Regions from separate parts of the Homo sapiens genome. Here regions 1, 2, 4 and 5 are each linked to region 3. Evidence: fine-mapped expression QTL. A gene starts in region 3. Each other region holds a variant in brackets. All regions are shown on one strand. Distances are from middle to middle.

Region 1 (5,771 bases), 40 kb after region 3:
GTCCTCAAGATTTAGGGGAGTGGAGAGCAGGGATAGCAGATGCGTGTCCTGAGTGCCAAGCATCGGTCAGGATAAAGCTAAGCTGCTGAAACCTGAAAACGTGGGTGCTGCTCGCTGACAAGACAGCTCCTGGGGGCCGGCCCGGGTCAGGGGTGCAGGCCCAGGCTGCCGTCCAGGGACCCAGGTTCTCCTGGGCTGGGATCTGCCACTTTCAGGGCAGAGTCCTCCTTGTGGCCCACTGTGGCTCCTGCTGGCTGGAGGGGGAGAGTGGAAGGAGGTGCTAACTGCATGGAGGCTGCCCCAACCTCATCCCCATGGACGAGGGCAGGAGTCTGGGTGGAGAGCTTGCAGCCACTGTTATGCAGACCCTGCTGGCTGCTGCACTGGTCACATAGTAGTAGGTACTTTGTGAACACATGATTGCTCATAAATCAAAGCACAGCAGAGGCCAGCCCTCATCACAACGGAGCAGGTGGCCTCCTCCAGCCCACGCTGCACTTACTGCCTCTGGGAGGCTCTGTCCTGTGATTCTGTGGAGTGGCAGTCGGCAGCTCAGTACTTCCTGCACTGGGCTTGCTGGCCACACATCCCAAAAGCAGGGGCCTGAGGGCATGAGCAGGAAGGACATTGAGGAAAATGCAAAGGACCTGAGAACAGGCTGGGGACACGGGTCACTAGGTGATTGCATTACCCGGAACCTAGTCCAGCGATGCCTCCTTTAGGTCAGAGAAGGGTTCCCAGGGCCAGGGAGTGTTTACAAGAAAACTCCCTTGGCAATGAGCCTATACTATAACTTGGGGATATGATTTTGGCACCGTGAACCCAAACCAAGCTATGGGTAGATGGGGATGTGGTAGGGCCCCACTGTTCACCTGGCAGTTCAGATGAGCTCCTTGGCCATCATCCTGTAATAAGACTGATGGCATGGAAACAGACGGTGTTGCATCACTGAGAAAAGATTAGGATGGCTCTCATGAGGACCCAGGTCCATACGTATCACCAATTGAGAGACTTGCTGACGGCCCTCAGACAACAGCAGGGTGCCCATCCCCATCTGTCCTCACCCATCCCTCAGCCTCCACACGGCCCAGGTGTGACACCCTGAGTTTGCAACGAAACAAGGAAAGGAAAATCAGTGACCTGGACACTCAGCTCTTAGGATATTGTCCTTATAGTGGTTATATCTACATATGCGTGTGCTGCATGCATCTCCAGAGCTCTGTTGTGTGAGTACACACACATCCACACACACACAGAGAAGAGAGAGAGACACAGAGAGACAGAGAGAGAGAGAGGAGGAGGAAGAAGAAGGAGGAGGAGGAGGGGAGGAGGAGGAGGAGGGGAGGAGGAGGAGGAGGGAAGGAGGAGGAGGAGGGAAGGAGGAGGAGGAGGGAAGGAGGAGGAGGAGGGAAGGAGGAGGAGGAGGAGGGGAGGAGGAGGAGGAGGGGAGGAGGAGGAGGAGGAGGAGAAGAAAGAAGTCCAGAAACATATTCATGTAAATTTAGGCTGTGTTTCTTCCTGGAGGTATATTGAAAGAACAAGTCTACAAAAATTATATACATATAGGCCGGGCATGGTGGCTCACGCCTGTAATCCCAGCACTTTGGGAGGCCGAGGCAGGTGGATCGCAAGGTCAGGAGATTGAGACCACCCTGGCTAACACGGTGAAACCCCATCTCTACTGAAAATACAAAACATTAGCCGGGCATGGTGGTGGGTGCCTGTAGTCCCAGCTACTCGGGAGGCTGAGGCAGGAGAATGGCGTGAACCCAGGAGGTGGAGCTTGCAGTGAGCCAAGATCGCGCCTCTGTACTCCAGCCTGGGCGACAGAGCGAGCCTCCGTCTCAAAAAAAAAAAAATTATATACATATAAAACAAGGCTTTAATCCCTTACAATGCCATTGCATTACTTTTGTAATCAGAAAAAATATAATTGTGGTACAAATCAAAGTTTAGGTTGAAATATTCATGTCATTGGGATTATTTTCCAGCTTGAATTCATCCACATGATGTCTTCCACTGGATCTTCACCCTGGGCAGGCCCAGTGTTACTCATGCGTGTGGTTGGAAGGAGCCCAAAGAATGTGCCTACTCTGAAATAGTTGCTACCACCAGGCCTGGTAAGGGCCTGACATTCACAGCCTTAGGGACTGTCTTTGAGATTAGGGCATAGTGTCTCTCTCCAAGATCACGACTACAAAGCAAAACCATGCCACATGTCCCCTGCAGGGACGGCTCCCTGGGGAGGCCTTGGGAGCACAGTGGCACAGCCAGATGGAGACAGACCTGGAAGTGACCTGGGGAGGGCAGGGGCTCGAGCCAGTGGGAGACCGTGGGGGTGGGTAGGAGGCAAGATGGGGACAGCCTGAGGCGAGATGGCCGCGACTGCTCAGGCCGAATGAGGACACATCAGGAGCGAGGATCCTAGGAGGGTCTCATAGGACGAGCCTCCTGTGTGTGGCTGGGTGTGGACGGCTGAGTCCCTTGGCCACCAGCCACGTGTGGGATCAGCCCAGCCGGCCTCTGGGTCGTGTCTGTGCATCTCAGTGGATCATCGGTGGGAGCTTTCCGGGGAGGCAGAGGGGCTCTTCCTGGACAGTGCCGCCAGATTCCCCCACCACCGAGCGGCATGCCATGGCTCGGCTTGCTCCTC[A/G]CAGCCTCGCCCCAGCTCTGTGGCTGGATCCGTGCTTGTGGCTAAGCCTCTTGGCAGCTCCGCCTGGATTGCTTTCAAGTCCGCACTGCCGCTCCTCCCTCTGAGTCTGTGAACGTCTCAGGGGACCTTCCACACAGTTTATAATATTGTCCCTCCTCTAGGCTTACCCTGGTCAACTTTCCCCAAGTCGGCGTGTGCCTACTTCCCACAGAAGTTTACAGAAGCCGGAAGTCCCGTCAGGGTATTAGGAGGAAGCCTGCATGTGGCGGATTTAGCCTCCTGGCCTCCTTGTCAATGGTCAGGATCAAGTTCTCCATCTCCCGTGCCAAGGAAAATACAGGCTTTGGATATGAGAGATTTTAGATGTGCTCAGCTTAGTCCCAGGCTTCTTTTTACTCAAGGACATTTCCTGGTACTTTGACCTTGCCAGGCGCTTCCAATTACTTTGTTTAATTATTTTCTTCTATTTTTCTGGGTCTAGGAGCGTGGGAGTTCTTTGATGTGGCTTAACCTGGTGTGTAGAAGCCACTGGTGCAATGGCTAATGATGCTTATTTGAGGCAAGTGTTTTCTAAATTCTCAAGGTTTCCTTTTTTACACGTAAAATTCTGACCTTGAGGAAGTTGGGGACTTTTCTGTCATTTAGGCCAACACTGAGCAATTAACTTTTTAACAATCCCAGGGCTTTGCATCTTTGTTTTTTCACTTTGATTCTTTTATGTCTAACAGTGGGAAAAGGTAGCATCTGAAACAAATTAATATGTGGCCCAGGGGCAATTCGAAACAATCTGGGCAAAAGTCCAATCATATTAGCTGCAGCATCAGAAGCTGGAGTGACCCTTGACTATGGACACAATTCCTATCTGTGCTGGGAGAGGCCTTTCAAAAAAAACCCCCGAACCTTTTAGGTTTTCAAGAGTAGATAATAGTAGCAGTAGGTTCTTTCTACCCTACTCCGAAGTCATTCCATTTCCATCTGGATTCCTTAGCACTTGTGTCCATCTCTGGGCTACACGGGTGCTTTTCTGTGCTCTCCTGTCATTTTCCATGCGCACAGAAAGTGGGTAAAGTAGTAACGCAGGCATAAACCGGAGTTATCGTCTTGTCCCTCATGACATGATAAGCCTCGTGAACTCAGAGACTGTGGACATTTAATCTCTGCACACAACACCAAGCATAACAGCTCACTCACGAACCCTGTGATGCTGGATATGGGGTCTGCTCGGTCCTCCCCCTTGCCCCAGGCCTGCTAGGGACAGTTTGTTTTTGCTGGATCATCTGCAGGCTCTCGCCATGCAAAGCCAGTGTCTTAGCTCAGGCTGCCGTGGCAAAATACCACAGACTGGGAGTTTCCACAACAGACAGTCATGTCCCCCAGTTCTGGAGGCTGGGAGTCTGAGATCGGGGTGCCAGCAGGTCAGGGTCTTCCTGGGCTGCAGACGGCCACCCTCTCACTGTGTCCTTACGTGGCAGGAGAGCAAGTCCTCTGGCCTCTTCTCATGAGGGCACTCGTCCCAGCACGAGGGTTGTATCACCAGGATTGCACCGAACCCTGATTATCTCCTGACGTCCCCATGTCCAAGCCCATCACACTGGGGGTTAGGACTTCAACATGCAAATTTTGGGGGGTGGGGGCGGCACTAACACTGAACTCATAACAACCAGTAGAATGGACTGGAGCTGTGTGGCCTCCGTGGCAGTCCTCAGCCACTTGCGGCTTTTGAGAATGTGGCCAGTCCAAATGGAGACATGCTGTCAAGTGGAAGAGGCACACGGCGTTTCGAAGGCTGCTTAGAAAAAAAAAGTAATGTATCTTATAAGTAATTCATTGATATTTTGGATGTACTCGGTTAAAGCATAATATTAAGTTTCATCCTTCTTTTACTTTTTACAAATGTGTCTATGAGATAATTTCGACTCACACATGTGGCTGGTGACGCATTTCCTTTTTAAGAAATGCATATGTTTAAGGGTGGACGTGATTTTTAACATTTATGACCTGCTGTGTTGATATCCATAGACATGGTGATTAAGACAGTCAGGCAAGTTCTCAAATCCATCACCGCCCGGTCCTCCTCCTCCTCCTCCTCCTCTTCTTCCTCTTCTTCCTCCTCTTCCCCTTCTTCTTCCCCTCCCCCTCCCTCTCCCCCTTCCCCTTCCCCTTTCCCCTTCTTCTTCTTCTTCTTCTTCTTCCTCTTCCTCTTCCTCTTCTTCTTCTTTTTCTTCATCATTTTGGTGGTAAGAGAGTCTAAAATCTACTCTCCTGGTGAAGTCCCGGGGTGTGCTGCAGTGCTGTGAACTGCGATCTTCCTGCGAGCCAGCCTCTGGACTGATTCCTCCTACCTCACTGCGACTCTCTCCCCTTGACCTGCATCTCCCCATTTCTCTGGAGCCTCCCTGGTAACCCCCATCCCATCTGCTTCTGTATAGCTGGGAATGTTTTCCTCTGGGCGGGGAAATAGAAGAGCCCAGAGGGACGGGGCTGGGGAGGAGCTGGGGGCCTTGCTTATGACTGGCTCAAGCAGGGCCGCTGTGGGCACAGGGCGCTGGAAAGGCCAAGGCAGAGGTCCTAGAGAAATGCGGCTCCTGGTTAGGAGCACCAGAGGTTAGGATTCCTTTTCAATGATGTTTAGTTTCTGGATTTGAGTCTCTGAATGGGACCTTATGCAGCGAATGAGCCACAAGGAGCCGCTTTTACTTGCCTCACACACGGTATTCATGAAGATCTTCACTCAGCGCAGCATCCCTGAAGGAACGGGAAAACAAGGTTATCACAAATATGAAGGCACTGATGGTAAATTCAGTTCTTGCAGGCATAGAACTTTCTCCATCCATTGAAGCTCCCCGGAGATTGTGGTATGGAATAGAGGAGAGGAAGTTAAAATGAGACGTGGCCTTCCTGGGTCTCACGTTACTCCCGTGGAGCATCCAACTCTTGTCTAGGCTTGAGCGTTGGCCGGGGTTGGGGAGTAGAACCTCAGACCCACCATATTTTTTAGCCTGGGGGCTGGGAAAAGGGAATAGGAAGTCATAGCTGTCTCATCCTACTCAATCTTACTGCCCTTTGTATTGGAGAAGGTGCAGAAACCATTTCAGAGCAGCCTCTGTCTTGCTTCTCT
Region 2 (5,771 bases), 24 kb after region 3:
CCACTGCAAGTAGCCTGCAGGGTTGTCATTTTGGATGGCTGTGGGGCAGTACACTTGGAGGCAGGTGGCTGTCTGCAATCCCCTCAGCTTCTTTGAACATGTGTTAAGATACGGTGGCATCTGCAAGTGGAAGCTGATGCTCAAACCGAATCGTGCCTTCACAGCCCCTGGGGCCTCGGTACCCAGATTCTGCAGGTGAGCAGGTCAGGAGTGGGGCCCAGGCTTCTGCATTTCCAGCAAGCTCCAAGGTGAGGCTGAAGCTGTGGGCCTGTGGACCCCACTTTGAGAAGTGGGCTTTAAGGAAACCCGTGTCACAAATGACGCAACCTGCCTTGTGTGTTTTCTTTGTCTCCCATGAGAACGTGAGCACGATTTCAGTCAGCATAGACTTCTACGGAAAAACATTCATTCAGAAACATACATCATGCTGTCTCCTCTCCGCCTCCTCTCCCTTTTCCCTGGATCTCTTTCCTTCAGACGTTGGTAAGCCAGTTTGGGAGACGATTTTAAAAATCCTTATCTGTAATGTATTTCCTTGTGAACTGGGAAATCAGGAGAGCCCTTGAACCATGGAGCATCTGCATCATGTGACGTGCTTATGACAGAAGATAATCAAACACTCCGTCGGCACATTATTGGGCTAGACGCTGCATCCGATGCTCAGTTTCTGCTCTCAGGGAGCTCACTTAAAGGAATCGCTTCAGGAAACGCTTAGTGATCATAAGGCATTAAATATTAGGATAGATGTGTGCCCAGTTTCCTATGTACTGTGATATGTTACTAAGCAAAAATTTGATTTAATTAGCTTTTATTAATTTAAAATTGTGTTTCTAGAAATGAGGCTCGAGAGAACTGCGACATTATCCGTGGTGCAGCTCAACTGCCCTACCCTGGTCTCCTTGGAAGGAGACAGTTTTTCCCACTCATGGTTGCTACCACACTTTTTTTTTTTTTTCAAGACAGGGTCTTACTCTGTTGCCTGGGGTCGTAGTGCAGTGGCGCAATTTCGACTCACTGCAACCTCAACCTCCCAGGCTCAGGTCATCCTCCCACCTCAGCCCCCCCAGTAGCTGGGACTACAGGCGTGCATCACCACACCTGGCTAATTTTTGTATCCTTTATAGTGACGGGGTCTTGCCATGGTGCCCAGGCTGGTTTCAAACTTCTGGGCTCAAGCAGTCTGCCCGCCTCGGCCTCCCAAAATGCTTTGATTACAGGCGTGCACCACTGAGCCTGGCCTGCTACTACACTTCTTTTGATTCTTACAAGCTCATTAACTGGTATTAGTAATATTTGTGAACCTCCCTGCTGAACTATAAATCCTTTGAAGGCTGAATTTATGTCCTAGTCATCTTTGGGTTGCCCACCATACCTGGCACAAAAAGGTGCTCAAAATTCCTCCTTCAATGATGCTCACTACTCCCTGGAGCTTGGAGTTGCTTTGCTCCAAACCAGTGTTAGGTGGGGCCAACTGGACCACAGGAATGGGAGACAGACAGGATTCCTCTTTCCCTTTCCATAGTCCTTCAGGCCCAGGATTTGAGGGCTGATGATGTGTTCATAGATCGATGCCCCAAATTTGAATGCTTTCTCAGTGGACAGGTCTTTGACATGCTGGTTGTTGCAGGCAGGGAAGCATTGGTTGGCACAGATGGAGGCACATAGGACTCCAGGCGTGGGGTTTGATGTCAACAACACAGTGGTGTTTGGTGTCAGTGACTGCCTTGCAACACAGATGTTACTGACATTTTAACAAAGTGTTCTCTCTTCCTAACCTCAACTGAGAAAAGCAAAATACTGATTTATTTTCCAAAGCTTTGAGTGTTCCAGAACATATTTGCTGGCATAGGATCAACTTCTGTTGTCTTGATTCTATATCGAGTGTCATCAATTTAAAAGCTCGTTTTTGTTTAGAAGAAAGAAGGGAAAGACCAAGTGGAAAAACTCACTGTTCCACCTGAAATGTTGTTTGGGAGGGAAAGCAAAAAAAAGTTTCTCAATCTTTCTGGCACTTTTAGCTCTCAAAAATATTTTTTTCCTCCTTCCAGCCAGCTTGGGATTCTCTCCAGGGCTGAATCCATTCATGTGCTTTAAGAAATAATCTTAGCAGGAGTTTACATGTTTAAAAAGTAAACTTAGGAAACCTTTTTTTCTAATGAAATGCTAACTGACACCTGTTTCGTAAATGATCCACATACCCACATTCCCCAGCCCTCCTGCCACCATTTTATTTGTTTATTTTTTGTAGAGGCGGGTTTCTCACTATATTGCCCAGGCTGGTCTCAAACTCCTGGGCTCAAGTGATCCTTCCACCTCAGCCTCCTAAAGTGCTGGGATTACAGGTGTGAGCCACCGTGCCTGGCCGATCATTTTCTCAACTTGCCTTATGACCTCATCCAGACCCTCTTTCATGAATAAGGGAGGTGCAGCCTTTGACCAGGGTTCCTTCTGCAAATATTTCTGCCCATTCTCAGGGAAGATGTACCTGTTCCAGGACCCCTCCCTGCTGCCGGCTGGGCTTCTCACCCTCAAAAGGCCTCTCACCCCACACCTCACCAAGCCCACCCCTGTCTTAACTCCTGAAAACACAGCACACCCAGGTTTTCACAGATAAGACATTTTTACTGAGAGTTTATGGGAAATTGAAAGGAATTACATTGTGAAAAAGAAAATATAAGCTGAGGAGTTTATGGGAAATTGAAAGGAATTACATTGTGAAAAAGAAAACATAAGCTGAGGAGTTTATGGGAAATTGAAAGGAATTACATTGCGAAAAAGAAAACATAAGCTGAGGAGCAAAAAAAAAAAAAAAAAAAA[G/AAAG]GCAAGACTTTGGGCATTCTCCCCCGGCCCTGGACCCTTGAAGCTCACCTGGCCTCTTTCCCCCAATCAATATGACACTGGACTGTGGTTTGAATGTGTCTCCCAAAGCTCATATGTTGGAAACCTAAGCCCCAGGGCAACGTTGTTGAGAGGTGGAACATTTAAGAGGTGATTAGGTCATAAGACGTTACCCTTGAGATTGGATTAATGTCCTCATCAAGAGAGTGGATTCAGCCCTGGGGGAGTGTGTATGCTACGTGGGAGTGAGTTCGTTATAAAAGCCAGTTCAGCTCCCTCTCTCCATCTCTCTCTTATGCCCTCTTGCCTTCTGCCTTCTGCCTTCTGCTCGTGGGATGATGCAGCAAGAAGGCCCCCAAAAATCATGAGACCCTCAGCCTTGGACTTCCCAGCCCTCAGAGCTGTAAGAAACAAATCTCTGTTTTTTATAAATTACCCAGTCCTAGATATTCTGTTAGAACAGCATAAAACAAACTATGACACACAGTCAGGGTGGGGGCAGCCTTCCACATCCTCAGGCAGAGCGGATAGGCCCCCGGAGCCTCCATCTCTCCATTGCAGAGGGTAAGCTGAGCTTCAGCGTTGAGTAACCGAGGAACCATGCACGGTCCTCCCTGGTCCACCCCTGTCCATTCCCCACAAAGGTCAGACTTTTTACAGTAGGAATTCTGCTTTAACAGTGATACCAGCTGAACCAGAAGCCAATGGCAGCTTGAAACAGCAGCTTGCTCCTGTATCTGAGGATTCTGTGGTCCCGAATCAGCACGTGTCACAGGTAGAGCCGAGCTAGGAAAGAGCTGCTCTGGTCAGAGGGGCGGGGTGACCAGAACGTGCACCATCCAGGCCTCCTCCAAGATACTCCAAGGACCTCAGCCCACTCCCTCGCGGCAGGGAGCAACCCCCTCCTCTGTTGTTGACCAGGTGCAAGTTTATATCATTTTTAACAAGCACTATTAATTGGCTCGTGCTATTTTTCACAGCCAATCTTTAATCACATTTGTCAACATACTGTGCCTCATCCCTCACTTTGGGTTGTTGCTTATTTTGGTCAAATGCATCCTTTGTTATTTCAGAGAGCAGCCATAGGTGATAAACCCTCAGGGTTTTCAGACGTCTGAAAATCTTTTTAGTCTTGCCATCACGTGCGTGCGAATTCAGCTGGGTGCAACATTAGGGGCTTGTAGCTATTTCCCCTCACATCTCTGAATACATTATGTTGTCATCTTTTTGTTCCTATGGACAGGAATTCAGTCTAATTTTGTTCCTTTGTAGTAATCTATTTTTCTTCCTCTCATAGTGTTTAAGAAATCTTTTCATTTTGAGATAGCTTTAGATTTACAGAAAAGTTGAAAAGATATGTCTTCGGTTTCCCCTGATGTTATCTTTTTTTTTTTTTTTTTTCTGAGATAGGATCTAGCTCTATCACCCAGGCTGGAGTGCAGTAGCACAATCATGGCTCACTGCAGCCTCGACCTCCAAGACTCAGGTGATCCTCCTACCTCAGCCTCCTAAGTAGCTGAGACTACAGGTGCATGCCACCACGCTCAGCTAATTTTTAAAAGATTTTTTGTAGAGATGAGGTCTCACTATATTGCCCAGGCTAGTCTTGAGCTCCTAGGCTCACGTGATCCTCCTAAAGTGCTGTGATGAGAGGCATGACCCACTGCGACATAGCACATTTGTTAAAACTATGAAGCCAATATTGGTGCATGCGGTCATCTGCACTCTAGGCAGTGTTTGGGTTGCCCGGATTTTTCTGTTCCAGGATTCCGTCCAGGAGGAGTCCTGTGTCTCCCTGGTCACCTCTGCTCTGGGGCAGGTGCTTGGGCTTCCCTTGTGTTTCAGGACCTTGGCAGTTTTCAGGAGGACAGGGCAGGTGTGTCATAGAATGTCCTGCAACTGGGAGTGTCTGACATTTCTCTCACCGTTAGACTGGGGTTGTGGGAGTTTTGAAAACTACAGAGGTGAGGTTCCCTCTCATCCCCCAGTATCCAGGGGTCCTGGTACCCACAACATCAATCCCGGCTGAACCTGGCCTTTACCACTTGGGAAGGCAGCGTTTGGCAGAGTCCCCACTGTGAACTGTAAAGTCACTACTGGCTCTTCCCGGACTCCATGATGTGGAAGGGACTCTCAGTCCTGCCCACACCCAAAATGGGGGCTCGCCTTGGCCTCCCAGAAGTGCTGGGATTACGTGTGGGAGCCGCGACACCTGGCCAACTTTTCCATTTGAATGAAGTATAGCTTTATCATTTCCTTTGAGAGTGGGATCGATTGTTAATTCATTTTTTCTTTAAGACAGGAATGTATTCACTCTTGAAAAAGGTTTTACACCTCTTTACACTGAGAGGTTTACCTTTTTGACCTTGTTACGTAAAGTAAGAAAAATAAGTTCATTCAAGAAAGTTTTAAATAAATCCATATCTGATAGAAAACTGAATATCTGGAGTGCAGCCTTAGCCTCCGTAATGACATCATATTCTTCTAAGAAATATCCCCTGGGACTCCCATCAAAGACAGAATGATGGTTTTGACCCAGTGTGACATTTGTTTTATTTTGTCCTTTTGATTTCTGACACTGTAAGTACATCCATAATCCATTGAGGGATAAGGACACTTACATACTTTGCTGAAAAAATAAATATCATGAAATTACCTTAAAATTATTTCTATAATTGCTCTCTTCTATGATGATCATTGAAGGCCAATTCTGTTGCTATAAAAACTCTACTGATACATTATTCTCCATGTGTGTATTGGGGTTGATAATCAATGAGATCAAAAGTCAGGCCTATCAGTGGAAGAAACTGATAAGAAATTGTGGCTTCCTCTGTTCCTTGTCACCCTGTGTTTTTCTGGCATTATTTACATTTACACCAAATCGTGCAGGTGGAACTCTTTTTTTGTGGTTGAGAAATACATTAAGTTGCTACAAT
Region 3 (5,771 bases):
AAAATTATAAGGATTATGTAACTGGGACACAGAGAAAGAGATCACTGTGGTCTGGAATAGTTATTCTTTATAGACACGAACTTGGAATTTGGACAGGTGGGAAGGAATGGCATTCCAAAAGAGAAGTAAAATGGCAAAGATGAAGGCAGGAATGAATGTCTGTAGGGGGGAGTGGGGTGCCGGCCCGTGGGGTTGGATGCTGGGACACAAGGGTCACTGTGTCCCAGGGCTCTTGAGAACCCTGCAATTGTTTCACCTCAGTGTAGTATGAAAGAAATATACATTTTAGGTTCAACTGAGAAACAAGAAACACAGTTTGCATCAAACATTCAGATAAAAAATGTTGTTTTCAATTTATTATACTTCATCAGGTTCTAATTTTGGAGTTCTGAAAAATGGACCCCCCAAATTAACTTTACTTCACTATAGCTTAATAAATAAATAGGTAAAAAACATACTATGAAAAATTTTACTTATGCTCTTGGCTGATGGTTTAAAAAAAAGTAGAATATGAGAGTATGAGAAATTGTCCAGATATTCCTAGAAACCCTTGAGGATCCAATTACAAATACTGAAGGCTAAACTATTTCATTTCTAAGATCAAGTTTTTGGTTAAAGGAAAGAAACTATTCTGCCAAATGTATATGAAACATGGAATTTTAAATCTAGATATAGTTCTCAAAAAATGTTCAATTAGTACAGCCACATAAAGTGTTTCGAAAAACGAAAGAGGATCCCGTCCCTCCGAGAACAAATATGAAAACATTCTACCCACTACTTAATAATTACAGACACCTGTCCTAGTTCTTCAACACGGAGCCCTCTGTTAATCTGCTACAAACCTCTCTGCTGCTTGCTGTTTTCAGTGAGTCAACTGAGGCAATGTGTTTCCACAGTGCAGGAGACACACCTACCAAGGCAGCAGGAGCAGTTACCAACGATGGCTTGGCCCCTTTCTACCTGCGCACCCTTGGATGTGACTTCACCTGTGATTCAGTTGCCACATCTATAAATGAAGCTACACATGGTATTGCTGTAAGGAATGAACACAGCAAAGCATCTGAAGCCTATGGTCAGCAGTCAGCTGACAAACGTCAGCCACAAAGCAAACAGGATGCTCCCTGCACTGCACTGGAGTCACTGACATACTGGTTTGTTTTCCCCACCAGACTCTAAGCTGCTTAAGGATAGGGGCTTGTGGTGCTCACTTTTGGATTAACATTTCAACAGCTTATAGAGTTGAGGTTGCAGAAAGCACCCGACAAGCTCGTTAAATAAACAAATGCTGTGTGACTACAGGAGCAGTAAGTGATCTGCTGAGCCAAGATCAACTCAACATTTCTATAAAAGCGGTTCAATGATAGCCAAGAAAGTCTAGTACACACACCCAGCAGTCCCCGTGTCCACAGTTCAGACTGACTCAGTGTTACGTTGTACAGCATCTATGCTACTGCTTGGGTGTACGAAAATCTAAACGCCGTAAGGGGGTTACTCTTTTCCTTAAGAACGTAATCTACAGAGCTCTAACAGTTCAGGGTGTAGGCGGTTTGGCTTCAGACCACAGTTTACTCAGCGACCCGGCAAAAGGAAGTGCTGAGAAGTTGCTCCCCTGGCAACCGCCTCCTGAACCCATGTGACGGGTTTGTTTTCAGTTATCCAGCAGGGTAGCATGTTTGCTGCCGCGACCAATGGCCTTTCAGTCCCGCTGCTCACCAGTTCCCCAGGCGGCCAATCCGGGGCGGCTGGCGCGGGATGACAGCTGGGGCTGTACCCGGACGCCAGGAGGGAAGGGCCCTCAGTCAGCTTGGCACAGCACCTGCTTGAACAGCCAATTATCTCCCTGCCTCATCTCCATCACTGTGCTTCCTCAAACTTCAGAGAGCTGTGGCCCGAACCCGCCCTCGGGGGTGCCAGGTCCTCTCTACCCCTCCTTCATTTCTCTAAATCCCAAGACTGGAGATGCACACTTTCAATCTGTGGATAGTTCCAGTTTCAAATGCATGTTTCTTATAGGCTGAAAAGTACTTTCAACCGAAAAGACACCCTTTTTACTTCCAGAAGAACCAGGAGGGGTACTCACCAGCTGCTGTCCCGCAGCAGGGAGGGACCCACCAGGCGGAGGAAAAGATGGTGGCGATCACCTCCTCGGGGAAGAGAGTGACATTCCTCTGGATCTGCAGCAGGTTGAGCACCAGGGCTAGGACCACCCCAACCGAGAAGAGCACGAGGCTCCTCTGCAACAGGCGATGATGCCAGGTGTTGGGGTAGGGGCTGCCGGGCTCGGGGCCGCTCATCGCAGCACTGCGGCCCCTGGGCGCGGGGTCAGCGTCCGGGGCACCGTGGGCCGCCAGCAGGGAGGGCCCGGACACGGAAACGTTGATCATCTCCCCAACCTTGGCCGCCAGCCCCGCGGCGCTGGCTCGCGGGGGGCCTCGGCGCCTCGCGCTGTGCGCACAGGAGCAGCTCCAGAAGTGGTCGTGCAATCTGGGCATCGGTCACACGCGTCCAAGAGGCGCTTCCTGGAAGAAGGGGGTCATCAAGTTCACTCAGAAGAGACAAAGAGCGAGGAAGGCCCCGCGGGACGCGAACCCCGGCACCCGGGCCAGGCGGCAGCGCCGCCCCCCAAGGTTAGACCCCCGTGCGCCCGCCCGGGGCCAGCGGCGGACGGGACCCGCGCTCACAGCGAGCAGCATCCCCGGCCCCAGCGGGACCCGCGTCCCAAAGACCCAACAGGGCCCGCGCCCGCCTACCTCCGGGGAGGACCGGCTGCTGCGCGACCAAAGCCCGCCCGCGACCCCTATCCCAGCCGGCCGCGTACCTGGCCGAGAGGCGCCCGCCCGCCGGCTCTCCGAACGGAGGCGGGGCGGGGGAAAGGAGGAGTCACGGCCCGGGACGGCCGCAGCGCCTGGCGGGCGCGCGGGTTTATATGGCGGGCCGCGGGGCCCGCATCACGTGAGCCTGCCCGGCCTACCCACCGCCCGCGCGCACCGCCCAGGGGCGTGGCCTGAGCTTGCCCCGCCCCGCCCGCGAGCCCGTCCGCACGCGGTCTGGTGAGGCGGCCGCAACCAATGGGAGGCCGGCGGCCCATATGACGTGCGCACACGCCACCGCCGGCCCGCGCGCACTCGGGCGGGAGCCTCGGCACGGACTGCGGGGCGCGTGGCGGCTGCGGGGCACGCGGGCCCGAGCGGGACTGGCCGGCTGCGAGTGGGCGGCCGCGGAGCTGGGGCCTGGGAGGGGACGGTCCTGCCGGGAGGAGGCGGAGGCAGGACAGGGTGGGGTTGCGGGCCCGGCGCCGCCCCTCCCGGCTCCTGGCTCCCCTCGCCTGGTGTCCCGCGCCTGGCCGGGAGGCGGCGGGTCTCGATCGCGCGGGCCTCCCTGGAGGGGCGCGGGCTCTGGCGGCGGGGAGGCCCCTGCTCAGCGCAATGGCGGGCTTGCATCCTTGGGTGATTTTTTCGGGCCCCTTGTGGCCTTTGCTCACGCCTAGAGAGCAAACCACCCGCACCACCCAGGAGCAGATAAAATCGAGACCACAGCCTCCAAGGGAGCGCGCCTCCATCCTGTTTGCCCCTCGGGTCGCCGTCTGAGGGCGGGCCCGTGCCCGCTCAGAGCCTACATCCGAGTCGTATAAAGCGCTGACAGCAGAGAAAGCTGCGGCTTTGCTCCGTGCAGATGAGCAGGGGCTGAGGGAGGACGCTGTGCTCTCAGTAGCCGCGCTTGGCCCGGGGACCCTGCAGGCTTAGAAACGTGAGTCACGCCTGCAGCGTGGCGAGGAAACGCCGTTGATGTGGCATCCTCAGCCTGGGGTTGTGGCTTTAAGCCAGAAGGTCAAAAAAAGAAGTCTTCCTGAGCTGAGACTGCCCTGAGTCGCTTTAGGGGCGAAATTCCGAGCATCCGGTTGCATTTCCTGAGGATGACACGCGTGGTGGGTGTGGACGGCCTACAGGGGTCCATCCTCAGCGGCCCCTCTGCAGGGCAGTCTCGCTCTCACTCTCCCAGCTGACTCCTCTCAAGCCTGTTAACCATTGTACACGTTCCCAAGGACTCCAAGCAGGTTGGACTTCAGGGAACATTGCAGTTTGGGTCTTGGCCATTGTTTACACTCCACCTTGCATAAGTGCTTGAGGATCACACAACCAGATACGTAGATCATCCGTAGATCATCGCAGTCACATCGAAGATTTGTTTATAATAGGAAAAAAAAAAGCTACCCACTGTCATGCGCTGGGAAACTAGTGAGCTGAAGGATGACCCATCTGTAAATGGGGTGCTCCCTAATGGACAGGGCACCTTTCAGAAGCCTGTGCTGTGTCTCCTCGACCCCACTGTGAGCTCCCCGTCCCGCACGCTGATCTAAATCAAGCTGCTAACCTCATGGAGAGGCGTCCGCACGGGAGCCCCGGCCCTGAGATGCGGGGCAGTCACCCATTCAATTAGGAAACACCAGCAAGTGCCAGAAGCTTCTCATTAGCAGGTCAGCTTTCAATAACTGGTTTATCCAGGTGTGTGAGACCCGATAAGCAGAAGGGAAAGCTCTTAGCGACCTATCCAGCTGCTCTGCACTGGGCTCCTGACATCCCAGAAATCAGTACATCTGTCTTCTGGGGTCCAAGAGGTATTTCAGTTTCTCTGGCTTTGTTTCCCGTCATTTGTACCTGGCCCTGCAGACTACCCCAGTATTTCCATCATAATACCCCTGTGGGCAGGTGCATACCTCATGACAATATTTAATATTAATAGATTTATGTGTTGTCTCCAGAATGGAAAGGGGCTGTCTATTCCTTGAGCTAGTTGGCTTGCTAAAGACTATTGACTTCATTCTTCTTTTCCTATCTACCTAATAAACCAGTGTTCATACAACCCAGCCTCTCTGACTCTGTCCCTCCTCTCATCTGTACTGGGACATTATGAACCATGGAAGATCCTGGAGTCATAGAGGCACCCTGTGGCTCTGTGGCTGTTGCACTTACACCGACCAAGATGTCCCGTGGGAATGTGGGAAGGTTGCCCGTGGGGTTCCTGCTGAGGGCCTCCAGCGTGGCCTCTGAGTCGTAGGTAGAGATTGTCACTGCGTTCCCAATGTGTGTTTGCCCAGGTGCCTGTGGAGTCTGGCCCCATGAAGAAATGCAGCCTGGGGTAAAGACAGTGGGAGAGTTTGAGTTTACCCCCTTGAATACCCCCTTTGAAGACCGAGCCTCCATATCAGTAACCACATTCCAAGATTTTCAGGGGTTGAAATTTGCTTATCCTCAAGCAAAGCTGTTGTTGATTTTGTTTCCCTGCTAATCGTGGGCCGTGTGTTGAAGATAATGGGGTTCATTCTCTTCAGCCCCTGTCAGCCACTCTGAGTTCAGCATTTAGGGAAATCTGCTCATGATGGCACCGTTTAGTTCTTAATTGCCCCACAATACAGAAATCATCACAGATGTGGCCTTACTCTAGGGGAGTTGACTATTGTTGAGTTAAACACCTCGCCGTGCCTTCCCAGATCACTAAGTAACCCTCAGACTGGTGGCCTCTGTACTGAACAGGCTGGCGGAAGGGAGCACAGGACGGCTGTAGCTCTTTCGGATACGGAAGAATCATGCACTCATAAAGGCCTAAAGACTGGGAGGTGTCACGTAGTGAGCAATCTTGCCTTTAGTCTGTTCTTACTGTTCTTTTTATTATAACATTAATAACCATTTGTAAGAAATATTCTTAAGATAAAGTAGATTACCAAATATATATTTTTTCATATAAAAGCATCACATGCTCATTGTAAAACATCG
Region 4 (5,771 bases), 34 kb after region 3:
AAGCCCATGGATGCCGGCCATAGAGGCCAGGGCCTTGGGGCACAGAGCCAGCGGAGGTGAGTGGACAGTGGAGCAGAGGGCAGTGGAGTGCATGCAGCCTCTGCCGTCACTAGGCAGTTTGCTTTCCTTCTGACACCTGCCAGTCACCTCACAGTTTCAACAGGGCTGCTGAACGCCAGGCATCAAGCACATGTTCCAGCCAGTGACAGGAGGGGAAGGCAGGGAGACAAAGGCCGCCAGCAGACCTCCACTTCCAACTCACGAGCCGGAAATGGGTCCATAGTTTTTCCTCTTAGGGCAATAGCATGGGAGGCCATTGATTCCCAGAGACGTTCCCAATGTTAGGCCACCCACCAGGGGCCTAAGAAGTGAAAAGTCGATCAGTCCTGCTCAGAGGAAGTGGATAGTAAATAAACAATAAGGAAGTCTTTGCACAGAAACCTAGGCTTGTGTTGCTGTATTAGACACCACAAACATCGCAAAGTGAAACAGAGAGCATTTGTGATCTTCAACTGCAATCTGAGCTGGATTTTACAATGAGGAAGTTGTGATAAGTTGTCCTTGTTATTCTGCAGGATCTCGTAAGGAGGCCACTTGCATTCAGAATCTGTCAAAGGACCATTTTCAAAGCAGAGCTTAAAGCGGCATCACTAGCACGTCTCACACAACACAGAAGTCCTGGGGTCGAGGCCTGGGCGCAGTCTCTGCTCTCCGTGAATTCAGTCAACGAGGCTTTGCCTGTCCTTGCCGGTGCCCTGGGGAGATGCAGCGGAACGGGCTGCCTCTCCTCGTTCTGTGGGAGCTCACAACCGTGTTTGGCACACGCAGGTCAGCCAGGGTGAAGGGTGAAGTGTGAGCAGGAGGAGGAACAAGCCGAGGGCTGCAAGAGGAAGAAGAGGGCGGTCACTGAAAGGGCCACGGAGCTGTGCCCCAAGGTCCTGTTGGTTCTGAGTTCAGGCACTGCTGGCAGCCAGGAGGGCTCACAGCCCTGGGGCACAGGGGCGAGGTAGTGATGCAACTGCCTGGCAGGTGCCTTGGGTGGAGACGAGTGCCCCCATCTCAGTCATCATGACTTCTTTATTCATGAGCTCCAAATATTATTTTCCTGGCCAACCACAACTCCTGGTCAGGCTGGGGGTGGTCAACTTTCTTTTGCCTCATTTAAACGCACAGTGCTGCTCCTCAAGTCAACAACCTCTCTTCAGACTCTGCAGTGAGTTTAAGGGGCATGTATGCATGTGTGTGCGTAAGTGTATGCATGTTTATGCCTGTGCTCACACGTGTGTGCCTGTTTATGGGTGTGTGCATGCACATGTGGGTGTGTGCATGTGTGTCTATATGTGTATATACATGTGGGGGTGTGTGCATGTAATGCTTGTATATACCTATGTGTGCACACATGGCGTGTGTGTGTGCATGTGTGAATGGATGTGTCCTGGACCGAGACAATGATCGTGCTTAAGTAGTTGTACCTGAGCACAGAGTGACTAGAATTGGGAAATTTCTACGATCCCAATTGTATTCTGACTTATGATCCTAACACTAACTCCCATCCAGGGAAGCTGAGAAGGAAACTCTGAAGTCAGTTGCATATCTAACCTCCCCCTACCCTGTGCCCCCACACCACTGCTGCATTCAAAGCTGCCTCACCATCTTCCCAGCCCACATGGCCTTCCTGGTTCTTACCTGTGAACCTGCTGTTTCTCTCTGCTCGAAAAGCCTCCAGAGTCACACAGAATGCATCTTTCTTCATGCAGCGCGAGGTTCTTGAATAGCCAAAATGCCCAAGCATGATGCAAAGCCCTTTTAAGAGTTATTTATCATTAAACCTCACATTGATCTTAAGAAACAGGAAGATACGGTTGAGGGTACAGGCTCAGAAAGGTTAAGTGATTTGCCCAAGGCCACATGAAGGACCTGAATCAAGGTTTTCTGGCTCCAAATTCAGAGCGTTCTGTTATACTCTCCTAGTTTTATTGATCATGGTACTGCGCAAGACTTTTCAGGAGAGTTTGGTCATCTCCCATGATGCCAACTCCAGAAGATTAGGAGTGGGCCCCTGTGCGAACAGGAGGTTGTTCTGGGGTCCATGAGAGGCGGCGGTCACACTTCCTAACACGTTCAGCTGACGCTGGTGCAAATAGGACAAAGGAGGGGCTCTCACCCCAAACATTCCAGTCAGGGGGACGGAACTTGGTGTAAGTGAGGGGATATGGGGGCAGCAGGGAGCCCAACCTTGCCAGGAGAGCTCAGAAGAGGTCTCATGGTGTGTGTGTGTGTGTGTGTGTGAGAGAGAGAGAGAGAGAAGAAAGTTGAAGAGTGAAAGCCCATAGTTGCTTAAGGCAGGAGAACTGATGGGTGAACTTTGCTATTATTTGCTACACTCTGGGAAAGTGTTTTATTCTTAGCCCATGTCTCTTCCCAGCATGCACACACTCACACTCATACGCTCACACACTAACAGATACACACACTCAGACATACTCCCACACTAACACTCAGACACATACTAACACTCAGACACCCACTCACACTCACACACACTCCCACACACTAACACTGAGACACACACACTAACCCTCAGACACACACTCACACACTAAATGCAGACACACACACACTAACTCTCAGACACACATACACAGTCACACATACTCAGACACATACACATACACTCAGACACACGCGAACACGCAGACACACACACTCACACTAACACTCAGACACACATACGCAGTCACATATACTCAGACACACATACTTACACTCAGACACACAAACTCCCACGCACTCACACACACACTAACACTCAGACACACATACACAGTCACACATACACTCAGACACACACACACTAACAGTCATACTCCCACACACTCACACACTTGCTCACTTGTACCCACTTCCCTCCCTGCTCTCGCCTGCCTGGTTGAGGGGTCCACAGCCACGCAAGACCACCCCACGCCACTGCGGGGCGCCAGGCATCAGCTTTCTGAGCCCTGAGTGGGGTCCGGTCCTCTCCCCTTGGGCTTTTTGGTTTTGGTCTTAGAAATGTTCGGGGAGCCATGGGGGTCATCCTGTGCCCTCCTCCTGGTCTGTTCACCAAGCTCAAGAGGGAAGACAAGTGATCAGAAATCCGCAGATAGTGAGCAACAGCGGGAAAGGACTCACCAGGAAGGAGGCAGCCAAGAAAGAGCAGTGAGTGGAGAGGCAACATGTGCCACGGCGCACCCCGAGGGGAGGATGCACCCTCCAGCGAAGGCTGCACCCCCAGGGAAGGGCTCACCCTTGAGTGAAGGCTGCACCCCGAGGGAAGGGTTCACCCCAAAGCTGCACCCAGAGGGA[A/G]GTGCTCACCCTGAGGGAAGGGCGCACCCCAAGGGAAAGTTTCACCCCGAGGGAAGGGCTCACCCCTAGGGAAGGGCGCACCCTGTGGTAAGGGCTCAACCCGAGGGAAGGGCTCACCCCGAGCAAAGGCTGCACCCAGAGGGAAGTGCTCACCCCGAGGGAAGGGTGCACCCCAAGGGAAAGATTCACCCCGAGGGAAGGGCTCACCCCAGGGAAGGGCTCACCCCTAGGGAAGGGCTCACCCCGAGGGAAGGGCGTGGCTGTGTGGCCCAGTCACCACCTTGATTAGAGGCTCCTCATCTGGACCTCTGCAGAGAAAGGGGGCCGACAGTAAGCATTTTATTTCATTTTTGGTTTTTGTTTGTTTGTTTTGAGACAGGGTCCTTCTCTGCTGCCCAGGCTGGAGTGCAGTGGTGCAATCTTGGCTCACTGCAGTTTCAACTTCCCAGCTTCAAGCAATCCACCCACCTCAGCCTCCCAAGTAGCTGTGACCAGAGGCATGTGCCACCATGTTCAGCTAATTTTTTAAATTTTTTGTGGAGACAGGGTTTCGTCATGTTGCTCAGACTGGTTTTGAACTCCTGACCTCAAGCCTTCTGCCCGCCTCAGCCTCCCAAAGTGCTGGGATTAGAGGTGTGAGCCACCGCACCCAGCTAAATTGTAAACATTTTCAGTGTGAAGGAATTAGTTTACATTAAAGATGTTTCCTATGGTTGGTGATTTTGGAGGGTGATTTGGGCTAAGGCTGATGGGAAGGGGAGGGCCGTGAAAGTGGCACCCCATTGACAGACGGTGTTGGCAGGCTGGTCTGCAGGTCTTCCGGTCTCTGTCAAACATCCACAGACAAGACAGAGCAACATGGAGAGGTCCAGGCCCACATGGAGATGCATTTATCTAGCATTTTCTCCTTAAGCAGAAAAGATGAGCTCGCAAAAAAAAAAAAACCAGCACGACATTGACCTTGAAATTCCATCATTATTGTAATTGATCACAAGTCAGCTGATCACTAGGCAACTCCGCTTTCATCACCAACTGTGCAAGGCCAGGAAATCCACACGTGCCCTCCTCCTTGTGTGGTAGACGGCCGCCAAGATCGCATTCTTTAGATCACGCCGAAAAATCTCTGCTGACATTTTCATGTCAAACAGGAGTATGTGCTTACGGAGGAAAGAACCACTTACGGTTCTCAGTGGGAGGTGGCAGAACACAGCTCTGGGTAACTGAAGCAGAAAAGGAATTGTTAAAAGAGTATTTAAATATTCCTTTAAATTATTAAAGCGATTATTAAAAGAATTATATATTGTCTAGCTCAAGGAATGGAGGTGGCGTGGGGAGGAGAACGAGTTTCCTAGCCTACCACAGCGAGAAAGATGCTGGGAAAAAGGACACTGGGACCCGCTCAGGGAAGTCTCTACCACCAGCACTACTGGCTGCACACACAGAAGGGACCTCAGGCTAGAGGCTGCAGGCTGCCGCTAGACCTGCTGACACCTCTGCCCATGGGAACGGCGTGGCCATCCAGGGTGGTGTCTGAGCCGTCTGAGTTCTGGGAGTCACTAGCTTCCCGGCAGGGTAGGCTTGCAGCTAGGCTCATGGGTGCGAGTGCCCCTGTGGGCAAAGCGAGTGCTGGCCTCTGCACTTTCTGAATGTAGTGTAGCTACGTTCAGATCCTGTGTCACGAGTTGGAGGATTCACCAAACACTGGGAAGGATTTCAGATGCCTGGTGGCCAAAAAAAGGATGGCAATGTCCACTGTGGCAGAAAAGCTCTCTGGAAGTCCAGGAACCACTGCTGGAAAGCTGCTGTTTAGGAGCTGGGTCAGTGCAAGAATGAGAGGGCGCCCTGTGTGGCTGCAGGTGACACATTCAGGGCACAGCCAGGGAACACAGTCCAGCCAGATCAAATGGCCTGGCCCAGAGCACCATTATTAAGTTTTACTATGGAATTGTGCTTGTGAAGTAAAGGGCGTTCTAGACCGTGTTGGGAATATGCACTGAACACAGAAGAATACGCTAAACTGAAATACTGTAGGCTGCTGTGACCAACCTTTTCTGGGAATGTGCAGAATGTACAGAACTTGAGACCTTAAAGTGAGGGCAACTGATGCTCTCGTCATCCTGGAAGCCGGAAGTTTGAAGTCAAGGTGTCGGCAGGGCAGGCTCCCTCCGAGGGTGGGAGGGAGAGTCTGTTCCAGGCCTCTCTACTGGCATACTATGGTGGCTTGGTGTCTTTGGTGTTCCTTGGCTGTGGACATGTCACCCCCAGCCCTGCCTCTGTCCTCTGGGGTCTTCTCCCTGAGAGTCTATGTCTTCACAGGGTGTGGCATCTTCTGTCTGGAAAACAGGTTATCTGCTTCCCAAATGCCATGGTGGGACAGGCAGAAGAAAGCCAGTCCCCTTCCAAAGGGGAGAAACTGGAGGGAAGAC
Region 5 (5,771 bases), 92 kb after region 3:
CAGGAATGCCCAGCACACACCCAGTCTCGGGGCACCTGCCCTCACAGCTGGGGGGCGTCACCTATGTGCCCCGAATGTAGTAGATCATGTGGTGCCTGCACCAAGGCCGTGGCATGAAATTCAATAAAATTTCCCCAAATTCATTGTTCAGTCATGACTCATTTCCAAGGAAAGGAGTGAAATCCACCCTTCTTCCTTTGTTCTTTCTTCCTCCTTTGAAAGTGTCCCCATGGAGAAGCCCCCACTCCTACAGTCTTGAGAAAGAGCCTCTCACACACTCACACCCATTCCCACACACAGACACACTCATACACACACACATATTCCCACACACACTCACATTCCCCACTCACACCCATTCCCACACAGACACACTCATACACACACACCCATTCCCACACACACATTCCCCCCACACACCCATTCCCCACACACACTCACATTCCCACACACACTCACACCCATTCCCACACACACATTCCCACACACACCCATTCCCCCACACACACCCATTCCCACATACATTCCCACACACTCACACCCATTCCCACACACACATTCCCACACACATTCCCCCACACACACTCACACCCATCCCCACACACACATTCCCACACACATTCCCCCACACACACTCACACCCATCCCCACACAATTCCCACACACACTCACACCCATTCCCACACACACACCCATTCCCACACACCCATTCCCACACACACCCATTCCCACACACACTCACATTCCCCCACACACCCATTCCTACACACACACACACACCCATTCCCCCCCACACATACACACTCATACCTATTCCCCCACACACAGACACACACACACCCATTCCCCCCACACACCCATTCCCTCCCCCCACACACAGACACACTCAGGCCCATTCCCACACACACACACACCCATTCCCCCACAGACACACACACACTCTCACACCCATTCCCACACACACAGACACACACCCATTCCCCACACACAGACACACTCATACACACACACCCATTCCCACACACTCACATTCCCCCCACACACTCACACCCATTCCCACACACAGAGTCATACACACACACTCACACCCATTCCCCACAGACACACTCATTCCCCACACACAGACACACTCATACCCACACTCACACCCATTCCCACTCACACACTCACATGCCCACACTCACATTCCCCCCTCACACCCATTCCCACACACTCATGTTCCCACACACACACTCACACCCATTCCCACTCACACACTCACATGCCCACACTCACATTCCCCCCACACCCATTCCCACACACTCACGTTCCCACACACTCACACCCATTCCCACATACCCATTCCCACACACACTCACATTCCCACACACACATTCCCACACACACTCATACAGTCTCACACCCATTCCCACACACACACTCACATTCCCACACACTCACACCCATTCCCACACACACACACTCACACACTGTAACACACACACCCATTCCCACACACACACCCATTCCCACACAAGACACACACACCGATTTCCACACACACACGTACGCACACCCATTCCCACACACACCCATTCCCCCACACATTCCCACACACATGCACTCCCACACACACCCATTCCCACACACACTCATACACACTCACACCCATTCCCACACACAGACACACACACGCACGCACACACGCGTACACACACACATTCACACACAGTCACACACGTTAAGCCATTTTAACTTTAGCGCCTCAGCTCTCAGTCCCCAAATCACCTGCACACCCAGAGGCAGGGGCTACTCACAACGGAGCACCTTGGACAGAGGCAGGTAAACCCACTAAGCTGGATTCCTGGAGAAGCAGGAAAAAGCGGAGCCGTTTCTCCTTGAACATCCTAGATGCTCAGATAAAAGAGATGGAATCTCATTGGATGGATTTGAGGAAACCCCCAAAGCTGCTTCTTGAAAACATCAACCAGCGACCTGCCGTGTGCTGAGATTCTACCTGGCTCTTTGTTTTCAGGAAGTCTTCCTGAGAGAGCACACTGTTGGCGTTTTGCTGGGTAGATATCCCTTGGGGGGGTGTCCTACCTACTGAAGGGTGAATAGCAACCTTGCTCAACCATCACCCCAACAAAATCCAGGAGCACCCTCAGTCACTGTGACCCCCAAATGGCGTTTGTTGTATCCCCCAAATCCATATGTTGAAGTCTTAACCCCCAGGACCTCAGAATGTGGCTGTATTTGGAAACAGGGTCTTTCAAGAGGTAACTAAACTAAGATGAGGGCTTTGGAGTGGGCCCTAATCTAATCTGACCGGTGTCTTTAGGATGCAGTTTGGGTATTTGTCCCTGCCCAGATCTCATGTGGAAATGTGATCCTCAGTGTTGGAGGTGGGGATTGGAGGGAGGTGTTTGGATCATGGGGGTGGATCCCTCATGAATGGCTGGGCTAGCCTCTTGGTGATAAGTGAGCTCGAGCCCTGGGTTCACAGGAGTCCTGGTCTTTTAAAAGTGTGTGACACATCCCCCCTCCTCTTTCTCACTCCTGCTTCCCCCTGTGATGAGCTGGCTTCCCCTTCTTCTTCCGCCATGACTGGACGTTTCCTGAGGCCACCCCAGAGACAGATGACGTCACGCTTCCC[G/A]TACAGCCTGCAGATCCCTGAGCCAATTAAAGCGCTTTTCTTCATAAATTACCCAGCCTCAGGGACTTCTTTATAGCCAGGTGAGAACGGACTAAGAAGAAAAAGTTGGGAAGCAGACGCTGACAGAGGGATGACCACGTGAGGACACAGGGAGAGGATGGCGTCTGCAGGCCACGGAGGGGCCTGAGGAGGAACCAGCCCTGCCCACGCCGTGATCTCAGATTTCCGGACCTCAGGACTGCGGGGAAGGGAGTTTCTGTTGTTCAAGCTGCTCGGTCCACGGTACTTTGTTATAGAAGCCACAGCAGAGTTATATGCGTGTGTATGCGTGCACACACACACTCACACACACACACACAGACACTAACACACACGGACACACACTTTCTCACACACAGAAACACACAATGACACACACAGACACACTGACACACAGGCACAAACACACACACTCTGTCACACTGACACACACACACAAACACTGACACATTCACATACGGACACACTCTCGACCACTCACACACACTGACACACACAGACACACTGACACGCGGGCACACACAGACACACTCACGACACACAGACTCACGTACACTGACACACTCTCACGGACACACACTCTCGCACTCTCACACAGACACACACACTGATACAGACACACACGCTGACACACACAGAGACACACACACTGACACATCCACACAGAGGCCCCACATTTCTCAGCCTTTTGAGGTAGTACATTTAAATAGCATTTAAAATACCTATTAATTCATTAAAACACTCATAATCCTGTTATACGTCAGCGTAAATACCTTATGACAAATAGCCGACTGGAAACCACTGACTGAAAACCACAGAGTCAGCTCACGGAAGATGGCTGTTAAAATGCAAATGCACTTTGGGGAGGACATGGTGGCGTGAGTGTCAGGAAGGAGTGACTTGGCTTGTGAGTCAGCGTCTAGAAGGCGTGCGTCTGGCCTCTGAAGTCGGATGGGAGGGCCTGGGCTGCCTCCTGACTGCCACTTCCCTGCTGCGCGGCCTCCAGCCAGTGTCTCCACCTCCCTGCCCTTGGTCCGTAAATGGGGGGGTAATAGGACCCACTGCACGCGTTATAGGAGGGTCAAGTGGCTCCATATCTGCAAAGGGCTTAGGACAGCGCCTGGAAAGCACGCGGCGTCTGCCTTCCTCCGTCACTGGGAAGCTCGGGGGAGGGGCCACACGGACACAGGCTATTGGCTGAGGGAGCAGGGAGGGGCTGAGACACGATCTGGAGCCCGGGACTCACACATTGGGTCTGAAGAGCTATGGAGGCCACCACGGAGCATGCGTTTATGGGGGTTGAATGCAGCCACGATGCCACGTTAGAAATCACCAATGAGAAACACTAGAAATCGAAACTAAGAGCATTTAAAATACCTATTAATTCATTAAAACAATCATAAACCTGTCATACGTCAACGTAAATACCTTATGACGAACAGCTATATTTTCCAAAACAAAAAGCATTTAGGGGGAGGCATGGCATTGTCTTCGTGTCTGCAGAGCTCTCCAGTGTCTGACTTGGAAGAGCTGGGTTTTCCTGCCTGCTCCTGCATTCCACCTGCTTGCAGAGCATGGAGACAGTTCCGTGTGACACAGACATGCAGCTAGCAAAGTGGGTCCCTCAGGGGGTCTCGGGGATGTCAGGGTCCAGGGGCCTCCCTGAGGGCTTCTGATATGGTCTGGAAGGTGCTCCGCAGAGCCAGGGCAGTGGGCGTGCTGGGGAGCCAGGCTGGGGGGCTGGGCACCCCCTCCCTCATCCAGAGCAGCCCTATTCCTATCAGATACATGTCTTGGGCTCTGAGTCAAATGCTGTGTGTACAATAAAGTGGATACACCTGCTCTGGGGCCTGGGGCTACACTGGAAAGGTGAGGCTTTGGGATGGGATGGTGGAGGGGAACCGCTAGGGCCCTGGGAGATAAGGGCGAGAGGCCTCAGGTGTGCCCAGGTGGGAGAGCCAGGGCACCTGCAGTGCTGCTGGTCCAGTCCCAAAGCCAGCAGAGGCCCTGCTACCTCCACATGCTGGACTCCAGGAATTGCTCCTGGCAGCAGCAGGGAGCCCTGTGGAGCCAGGACACAGAGCCACATGGTGCGAGGGTGGCTGCTGCCAGGAGTGGAGAGGCGGCGTGCACATGGGTGACCTTGAGTGCACAGGTGCTGTGTGCCCACACAAGAGGTAGCTGGCCCACGGGGTGCTGCCCTCCCTCTGCCCCCCCAGCACACCTGGTCCACACACCTGCCCTGCTTCACCTGGTGCCACACCCTTGGGAGCACTGCTGAGGCCTAGAAGTCTTGGGCATGAGTGTGGCCTCCCGATAGGCAGGGCTCTGGCTCTCATCTGGGAGCACGGCAGAAGCTGTTGTCTGGGAGCACGGGTGTCCAAGCCCATGGAGAGCTGTCCCCCATGGAGAGCTGTCCCCCAGAGCCACCTCTTGCTGGAGGCAGAGCGCCTGCAGCAGGATGCGGGCCTCACATCTCAGGGCCTCGGCCTCCCTCGTGCTTACCCCTCCCACAGGCTCCTCTGCCCTTGCTGTCCTCACCTGGACCCTCCCCGAGATCCCCGAGTGCCCATCCCTTCACCAGGAGCCACTGGCCCAGTGTCTGTTTCCTGCCTCACTTTCCTTCCCAGGGTATCCCCTGCTGCCCTGCATGAGGCTTCTTTACCTGCTGTCTGTCCACCCCAAGGCAGGAGCTCCCTGAATGCTGGAGCACCAACAGCTCGGTCCCTGCAGAGTCCCAGCACCCAGTGAAGCCACTGTGAGGAGGACTTGGGCCTCAGGATGCACGTGCAGCCATGGAGACCCCACGGGGCGGCCCCTCGGATGATCCTGGCCTTCTGGGTGGTCCCCGAGGGTTTGTTTCTTTCTGGGACTTTCTAACAGGAGGTCCTGCTCCTTGCCGCCGACTCAGCCCTGCCTGTAGCTTCCACAGTGCGTCAGAAGTCACCGCTCACCTGATGCTGGGAATCCTCCTCCCAGGGCTCTGGAAAATTCCACCTCAGCCTGACAGACTCTCCCTCCCGCACCTGCACAGCCCCCGGGGCTCCGGAAAATTCCACCTCAGCCTGACAGAGCTCTCTCCAGGCTGGTGCGGGTG

Evidence for each region.
Region 1: its variant is fine-mapped to the expression of INSIG1 in blood mononuclear cells (TOPMed, PIP 0.99).
Region 2: its variant is fine-mapped to the expression of INSIG1 in whole blood (INTERVAL, PIP 0.97).
Region 4: its variant is fine-mapped to the expression of INSIG1 in whole blood (INTERVAL, PIP above 0.99).
Region 5: its variant is fine-mapped to the expression of INSIG1 in whole blood (TOPMed, PIP above 0.99).

The regions. Positions count from the first base shown.
Region 1 is chr7:155,254,710-155,260,480 of GRCh38, reverse strand. No RefSeq gene overlaps it. Among named protein-coding and RNA genes, the nearest start is that of INSIG1, 40 kb to the left of the region's middle. The variant A/G (reference allele first, on the strand shown) is at 2,654.
Region 2 is chr7:155,271,041-155,276,811 of GRCh38, reverse strand. No RefSeq gene overlaps it. Among named protein-coding and RNA genes, the nearest start is that of INSIG1, 24 kb to the left of the region's middle. The variant G/AAAG (reference allele first, on the strand shown) is at 2,818.
Region 3 is chr7:155,295,007-155,300,777 of GRCh38, reverse strand. It overlaps INSIG1 (insulin induced gene 1), which reads right to left and starts at 2,900. Exons shown (of 6, transcript NM_005542.6): 1 at 2,819-2,900; 2 at 2,081-2,519. The coding sequence starts at 2,492. INSIG1-DT (INSIG1 divergent transcript) reads left to right here and starts at 1,798. Exons shown (of 2, transcript NR_183448.1): 1 at 1,798-2,627. RefSeq lists enhancers at 1,375-1,444, 3,855-3,904 and a silencer at 2,565-3,394.
Region 4 is chr7:155,260,886-155,266,656 of GRCh38, reverse strand. It overlaps LOC105375588 (a long non-coding RNA gene), which reads left to right. Exons shown (of 5, transcript XR_928227.3): 1 at 1-56; 2 at 576-1,213; 3 at 1,972-2,198; 4 at 3,050-3,198; 5 at 3,725-3,764. Among named protein-coding and RNA genes, the nearest start is that of INSIG1, 34 kb to the left of the region's middle. The variant A/G (reference allele first, on the strand shown) is at 3,346.
Region 5 is chr7:155,203,504-155,209,274 of GRCh38, reverse strand. It overlaps LOC124901783 (a long non-coding RNA gene), which reads right to left and starts at 3,571. Exons shown (of 2, transcript XR_007060603.1): 1 at 3,448-3,571. It overlaps LOC124901786 (a long non-coding RNA gene), which reads left to right. Exons shown (of 2, transcript XR_007060606.1): 2 at 1-143. RefSeq lists a silencer at 22-316 and enhancers at 1-460, 3,390-3,639, 3,670-3,739, 3,770-3,819, 3,830-4,009. The variant G/A (reference allele first, on the strand shown) is at 2,636.